Homo sapiens: one gene and its partner. The protein of the gene in region 1 interacts with the protein of each later gene in a biochemical or structural test. Each region holds a gene or a part of one and is shown on either strand. Other genes may lie near its edges. The genes, in order: CACNA1B and GNAO1.

Region 1 (4,012 bases):
TTTTTGCCTTTCACATTAAGATCTGCAGTTTACTTGGAAGTTGATTTTTATGTGTTACATAAGGTATGGGTTAAGATACGTTTTCTGACGATAGATATCCAATTCACCCAGCATCGTTTATTTGAAAAGATCATTCTTACCCAGTGTAATGGATTTTTTAAAAAACAAAAACAAAACAGCTTTAGGCCAGGCGCGGTGGCTCACGCCTGTAATCCCAGCACTTTGGGAGGCTGAGGTGGGTGGATCATGAGGTCAGGAGTTGGAGACCAGCCTGGTCAAAATAGTGAAACCCTGTCTCTACTAAAACTACAAAAAATTAGCTGGGTATGGTGGCCAGCACCTGTAATCCCAGCTGCTCAGGAGGCTGAGGCAGGCGAATCGCTTGAACCTGGAAGGCGGAGGTTGCAGTGAGCCAAGATTGTGCCACTGCACTCCAGCCCGGGCGACAGTGTAAGACTCTGTCTCAAAAAAAAAACAAAAACAGAAACAAAAAAACAGCTTTATTGAGATGTAACTAACACATTATACTGCTTGTTCATAACAATCCACTTACAGTGTGCAATTAAGTGGCTTTTAGTCTATTTACAGGTACATGCAAGCATCGCCACAGTCAATTTTAGAACACATTTTCAGCACCTCAAAAAAAAAGAAAAACCCGCACCGTTTAACTATCATCCCCTACATCCCTGTCCCACCCCTAGCCAACTATGAATCTGTTTTTAATCTCTGTAAACCTCTCTGTTCTGGACACTTTTTGTAAATTGAATGATACAATATGTGGTCTTTTGTGAGTAGCTTCTTTCGTGTGATGTTTTCAGGTTTGTCCACGCAGTGGCTTGTGTCAGAGCCTTGTTCCTTGTTACGGCTGAATATGTGTTCTGTGCTGTGCCACATTTTCCTTATTCTTTCATTTGCTGATGAACATTGGGTTGTTTCTACCTTGTGGCTGTTATAAATGATGCTGTTGTATACATTTATGTCCACATTTTTGTGTGGGTCTGTTTTTGCTTCTCATGGGTGTGTACCTAAAAGTGGAATTAATGAGTGATTGGGTAACTCTGTGTTTAACTGTTTGAGGAAATGCCAGACTGTTTCCAAAGTGGCTAAAGCATTGTATATTCCCACCAGCAATGCATGAGGGTTCTGAATTCCCCATATCCTTGCCAACACTTGTGGTTTTCCATCTTTTTAGTTTTGGTATTTTTTAAACTACAGCCATCATCATGGGCATGAAGTGGTGTCTCGTGGTGGTTTTTATTTGCCTTTCCCTGATGATGAGTGGTGTTGAGCAGCGTTTCATGTGCTTAATAGCCATTTGTATATCTTCTTTGGAGGAGTGTCTATTCAGATCCTTTACCCATTTTTTATTTGGGTTTTTTTTTTTTTTTTTTTTGAGACGGAGTCTCGCTCTGTTGCCCAGGCTGGAGTGCAGTGGCGCGATCTCGGCTCACTGCAGGCTCCACCTCCCGGGTTCACGCCATTCTCCTGCCTCAGCCTCCCGAGTAGCTGGGACTATAGGCGCCCGCCACCACGCCCGGCTAATTATTTTTGTATTTTTAGTAGAGACGGGGGTTCACCATGTTAGCCAGGATGGTCTCCATCTCCTGACCTCGTGATCCGCCCGCCTCGGCCTCCCAAAGTGCTGGGATTACAGGCGTGAGCCACCGCGCCCGGCCTTTTTTATTTATTAGAATAGTTATTTACATATTCTAAATACAACTCCCTTATCAGACAGAGGATTAGGAAATAAGTATTTTTCCCATTCTGTGGATTTGTCTCTTTACGTTCTCGGCGTCCTCTGAGCACAGAAGTGTCCGATTTGATGCGGCCTGATTTATCTGTATTTTTTATTCTGTTGCTCATGATTTTGGTGTCACATCTAAGGCTCCATTCCCAGATTCGAGGTCACGAAGTTTTGCCCCCGTTTTCCTCTAAGTGTTTTATAGTTTTAGCTCCTTACACTTAGGTCTGGAATCCATCATGAGTTAATTTTTGTCTATGGAGTAAAGTAGGGTCACATTCATTCTTCTGCATGTGGACATCCAGTTTTCCCAGCACAGTCTGTTGGAGAGGCCATTCTTTCCCCACGGAATGGTTTCAACACTCTTGATAGGTGGGTTTATTTGGATCTTTTGTCTTTGCCCTCTAACCTCCCATGTTCTCATTCCTAGGGGTCAGTATTTGGATTATGAGAAGGAGGAAGTGGAAGCTCAGCCCAGGCAGTGGAAGAAATACGACTTTCACTACGACAATGTGCTCTGGGCTCTGCTGACGCTGTTCACAGTGTCCACGGGAGAAGGCTGGCCCATGTGAGTGCTCATCCTGCTCTCCGTAGCTGGGGCAGGCAGCCCCTGAGCTCGGCCTCCCTTCCTCCCTCTATCCCTGGGCTCAGGCATGGAAGCAGACCCACCCTTGTGGTGCAGGTCTTGAGTTCTTAGGGCTGTCTCCTTTGGGGGTTCCCCTGACACTTGCTCTCCTCTTTGCCCAGGGTGCTGAAACACTCCGTGGATGCCACCTATGAGGAGCAGGGTCCAAGCCCTGGGTACCGCATGGAGCTGTCCATCTTCTACGTGGTCTACTTTGTGGTCTTTCCCTTCTTCTTCGTCAACATCTTTGTGGCTTTGATCATCATCACCTTCCAGGAGCAGGGGGACAAGGTGATGTCTGAATGCAGCCTGGAGAAGAACGAGGTAGGTGGACGCTCTGTGGAGTCTTGCAGTGGACAGCGTGGGCAGCGCCATCAGGCTTCCCTCCTGCACACAAATCACTCACAGCTGGGTCAGCTTTGGCTGCCACCGTCTGCCAACACAGGGGCAGGTCCTCCTTTCTCCTGCAGAGGGACCGGATTTGGCTGGTTGAGGCCTGCTTGGAGAAGGTCTGGGCTGCTTCAATTTGTCTTCTGTTGTCAGGGCTCCCTGTGAGGCCTGGCGAGACAGGGCTGGGTGCAGTAGATGCCGTCGGGTAGGTTTTCTGCTTCTGAGTCTCTGTGCTCCTTTCTCCCCTTACAGAGGGCTTGCATTGACTTCGCCATCAGCGCCAAACCCCTGACACGGTACATGCCCCAAAACCGGCAGTCGTTCCAGTATAAGACGTGGACATTTGTGGTCTCCCCGCCCTTTGAATACTTCATCATGGCCATGATAGCCCTCAACACTGTGGTGCTGATGATGAAGGTGTGTGGGGCTCAGCGCAGAGGGGCAGCTGGCGCTGCTAGGGATTGGGATCTAACCCTGAGGCTGAGTGGAGAGTCAGCCTTCTTCCTCCCTGCATGAGCCAAAGCAGTAGTGGCCTTGCATCCTGGCCAGCATGGGATGCCTGTGGAATCCTGTTTCCCTTTGTTGTCTGTGGGCTGGGACAGTGGGGAGGTTCTGGGAGGACTCGGGGAGAGCAGGAAGGGGTGTCCCAGGCCTAGGCAGGCATCGAGTTCTGTCTGCCCGCTTTGCTTGGTCATAGTGGTCCCAGATGGGGTGTCTTGGGGCTGCCAAACCCATGGCCAACAGTGCCTATTCCCCGGGCAGTTCTATGATGCACCCTATGAGTACGAGCTGATGCTGAAATGCCTGAACATCGTGTTCACATCCATGTTCTCCATGGAATGCGTGCTGAAGATCATCGCCTTTGGGGTGCTGGTACGTGCTTTGGTCCCTGCTTTGCCTTTTGACAACCTATATTCTGGTTCCCCATCTGTAGGGCGACCTTTGGGGGCTCACAATTTGGAGCTGGGAATTCTCCGAGTACCCAGAGTATATGTAATGCTACAGGGGCCCTGGGGAAGGGGCTGTTCTGAGACTCTTGGCTACATAAGCTCTGCCCCCAGCCTAGGTCCTGGGAGGGAGGCAGGGCTGGGTTCTTCCTCTTTGGACACATGGCTCTTAGTCCTGCCTCTGCCCAGGCCCAGAGGTATCTGTGTCCCTGGCTTTGACATCTGCTTACCTCTGGCCTTGTGCTGTGCCCCCTGGGGTGGCCTGTCTGCCCTGTGCTCAGGGTCTATCACCCTCACCGCTTTCTTAAT
Region 2 (3,500 bases), on another chromosome or scaffold:
GGTGGGGCTTGTTGTCATGCTGGGCCTTGAGCGAGGCCTGTCCTCTCTCTGGGTCTGTTTCCTCGTCATTTCTGGCCCAGCTGGTCCACTGGGCTTTGTGAGGATGGGATCAACTTTGGGGTGTGGGCTACGGGGCACAGTGCTATAGGGAGGAGGAGCCGCCGCCCTGAGGGGCTTACACAGAGTGATGGGGCTTTGGGCTGGTGGTGTGGGTAGTCTGGACCCGTTCCGTGTACAGGCTTACCCACCTGACTCTTCCTATTTCAGGCCCACCTGTACCCCTGACTTGGGTTTCTGCTGTAATTGTTCTCAATGGCATCTGCAGGCAGTGATGTCAGTCACCAGCCCAGTCTTGATGCTGAGTGGGGCAAGGGTGGATGCGCTTCCTGGGCCGTGCTTGGACCCAGACTCACTGACCACCCAAAGCCCAGGTCAGCTTCCTGGCCATGTGCCCCTCACAGTGACTACCCAGACATTTCCCACTCCCCACTGCTAGACTCTATGCTATTACGGCCACTGCTCCAACTCCTGGGGTCTGAGCTCCACTTGGCTCATCTTTTTTCCCCCATGTCCACCACGGTTTCAAAGAGAGCAAAGGAGCTAGAAGCAGGAAGCCAGGAGGGCCCTTCCCCCTGGAATCCAGCCTCTCCCTGGACCTGCCCTGCCAGGCCTGTGGATGGCTTCAACCCAAGTCCCAGGCCCACCGGCCATGGGGCTGGGCTCTCGCTCACCTCTGGAAGATGGAAGCAAGGGACGTCTGGGTGAGCCTAGCAGCCACAGGCCCTGAGCTCTGCAGCCCATGGGTCCCCAGTGAGCATGAGCCTGGTGCTGGGCCTGGCACTGGGTGACCTTCCAGCCTGCGGGCCTTGCTGCCTGGAGCACTTGCCCTCCGGTCTTCTCCACCTTCTCTCACCTCCCTTTTTCCCCATTTCCCCCACCCTTCCACACAAGGGCTGGAGCAGAGGACCTTGGAGAAGCCAAAGCAAATGGAGCCAAGGTCACAGGCAGGCTCTTCCTGTGTCCTTCCTTCCCCAAGGCTGGCCACCTTTGCAGCCCGGGGAAGAGTAGCAGCTCGTGCAGGGAATGGGGATGACTTTGCAACCTGACAGCAGCCACAAAGGCAGCTCATTGCCGTGGTGGCAGCAAGAACAATACTGGCGCTGTAGAACTAAGCAGTCATCGCCGTGCGCTGGGGGCGCATGCAGAGGTGGACAGCTTGGGAGTCAGACAGATCTGGTCCAGGGTCTAGCATCACCCCTGCCGCCTGTGTGATCATGGGCAACCGCCCCACCCTGCCCGGGCCTGCACCTCCTCCTCTGTAGATGGTGACAATGGTAGAATGGACCACCGGGCTAAAAGCTGTAAAAGTGCCTGTACACAGGAATCATCACTCAGTGAATAGCTCCTGTGGCTACAACATTCAGATGCCATGGCTAGAGGTCAGGTTCTAGGATGTGGGAGCTCTGTCTGCCTCAGGGAGGCAAGAGCCAGGCCCCAGGAACTCAGGCCTTGGTCCTCAGCCATCCTCTCTGGTCAGCGCTGTGCATCCCTCTCTGGCCTGGGGTGAGAGCCTGCAACAAAGGTGTCTGGAAGCAGCTTCTGGAGCCAGGCCAGGAGAGCCCTGGGGCTAGTGGCTGCCACTGGCCATCCAGCCGCCCTGTCCGCTGCATCCCGGGAGCCCGAGAGCCTGGTCCTGGCCTCGTACCTGCTCTCAGCACCGCCCAGCCGGGCCTGCGGCTGCCACAGCTTCTCCACTACCACGGTCGCCTCCACTGCCTGCAGGGCCTTATCTTGCCAAACCAAGGCCAAAACCAGTTCTGAGAGACCCTCCAAGCCCGGAAGGTATGAAGCACCTCCCTCCAACTGAATCCATCAGCTAAGAGTTGAAAGCAGCAGGTTCTCAGGGCACCGCTGGGTGACTTTGCTGTGATGCCTGCCCAGCCCGCCCCTGCGCCCACACTCCTCTCCAGCCACTTGGCCTGGGCTCATCCCACCCATCCTGCATCTCTTGCCCTGCAATCCACAGGCCCAGGATGGCCATGGCCCCTGTGAGCCCGCACCGGGCTCTCTGCAGGAGCTAGCCAGGATGCCCTGGCCCTGAGACTGGTTGAACCAATTTTTCAGTATTTTTCTCTCTTTCTCTTGTTGGGTTTTTATCTTCTCTGTTTTCATCTGTTTTGCTGTGTTTCATCTTGGGGTTCCTCTGGCCCCTCTACTGAGAAACCAGCCCCAACAACCAGTTCTCCCAGAGCCTCCCCCGCTCCAGCCCACCAACGAGACCACCAACCACACCAAGGCCACAGCAAGCTCACCCCCGAGACGCTATTCCCTGGTGTCTGCTTCCAACTCGGGATTAATTCGAGGATCTCTTAGTCCTCAGTTAATGTTTCCCAACTGAATGCGTGCACCCTTCCAACCTTGCTGTCAAAACCGAATGAGACCCTGGTAGAGAAATCTGCATGAGCAGGGTTCCGCGCAGATGCGTTCGGTGGTGGTTGCGGCCCCTGCGCTGTACGTGCATGGTGCATGTCCTCTCCGTGAGCTGGAGCCTCTCCAGTGACCTCACTGCCCCCACCTGGGGCCAGCTCTCTTTGGAAGGGGGCAGCATCCCCCAACCCTGCCCGGCCCTGCTCCGCCCCGCCCTGCCTGCGTGTGGAATGAAACAGGACCACGTCCCGTCTGTCCTTGTGGGTCCTCCCGTCTCCGTCCTGGTGGTCTCCGTCCCGGTGGTGCATCCAGCCACATTGGTGGACCTTCCCTTTGCTTGTCCCGCTGTGTCATTGGCCGCGGTGGGTCAGGGCCCTGGATGCTGCCGCCCCTCACTCACCCCTCCACTCTGTTGCAGAACCGCATGCACGAATCCCTGAAGCTTTTTGACAGCATCTGCAACAACAAATGGTTCACAGACACGTCCATCATCCTGTTTCTTAACAAGAAGGACATATTTGAAGAGAAGATCAAGAAGTCCCCGCTCACCATCTGCTTTCCTGAATATACAGGTAGAGACCCCTCCAGGGACAGCAGGCCCCCGAGGGAGCGGGCCCCGTTCCCAAAGCCCAGTCCACCCTTCCTGTGCTCTGTGGATGCCCCTGACTCTGCCACAGAGAATCCACACAAACGGTCCCCCACCCTGCCCCCAGATTGTGCTCTAGAGAGGAGGGGCAGCTAGCCGGGGCTTCCTCATCAGGGAAAGCCGGTAGAGCCCTGGCTCTGCCACTTACGAGCTGTGTGACCATGGCGGCCTCTGGGAGCCTGAGCTCCACTGTCTGCGCACAGGGGCTCTCTGTGACGAGACGAGCAAACGCCGAGAAGATGAGGGGCGGGGCACAGAGGCTTGGAGTTAGGCAGCCCAAGGTTTATGCCCCAGCTCCGCCACTCACAAGCAGCTCAGGCAGGTCATGCAGCCTCTCTGAACCTCAGTCTCTGGGTCTGTGAGATGGGGTGATGGCTGTGATTGCCCTCGCCTCCCTCACCAGGTGCTATGAAGAGGGAATGAGCTG

Evidence for each region.
Region 2: the proteins of CACNA1B (region 1) and GNAO1 form a complex in vitro, tested with the Homo sapiens proteins (one study listed by BioGRID).

The regions. Positions count from the first base shown.
Region 1 is NC_000009.12:138,055,561-138,059,572, forward strand, and holds part of CACNA1B (voltage-dependent N-type calcium channel subunit alpha-1B), read left to right. Parts: intron 1-2,171; coding exon 2,172-2,309; intron 2,310-2,488; coding exon 2,489-2,690; intron 2,691-3,008; coding exon 3,009-3,173; intron 3,174-3,518; coding exon 3,519-3,629; intron 3,630-4,012. UniProt on the Homo sapiens protein: Voltage-sensitive calcium channels (VSCC) mediate the entry of calcium ions into excitable cells and are also involved in a variety of calcium-dependent processes, including muscle contraction, hormone or neurotransmitter release, gene expression, cell motility, cell division and cell death.
Region 2 is NC_000016.10:56,337,989-56,341,488, forward strand, and holds part of GNAO1 (guanine nucleotide-binding protein G(o) subunit alpha), read left to right. Parts: intron 1-2,845; coding exon of another isoform or gene 2,846-2,999; intron 3,000-3,500. UniProt on the Homo sapiens protein: Guanine nucleotide-binding proteins (G proteins) function as transducers downstream of G protein-coupled receptors (GPCRs) in numerous signaling cascades.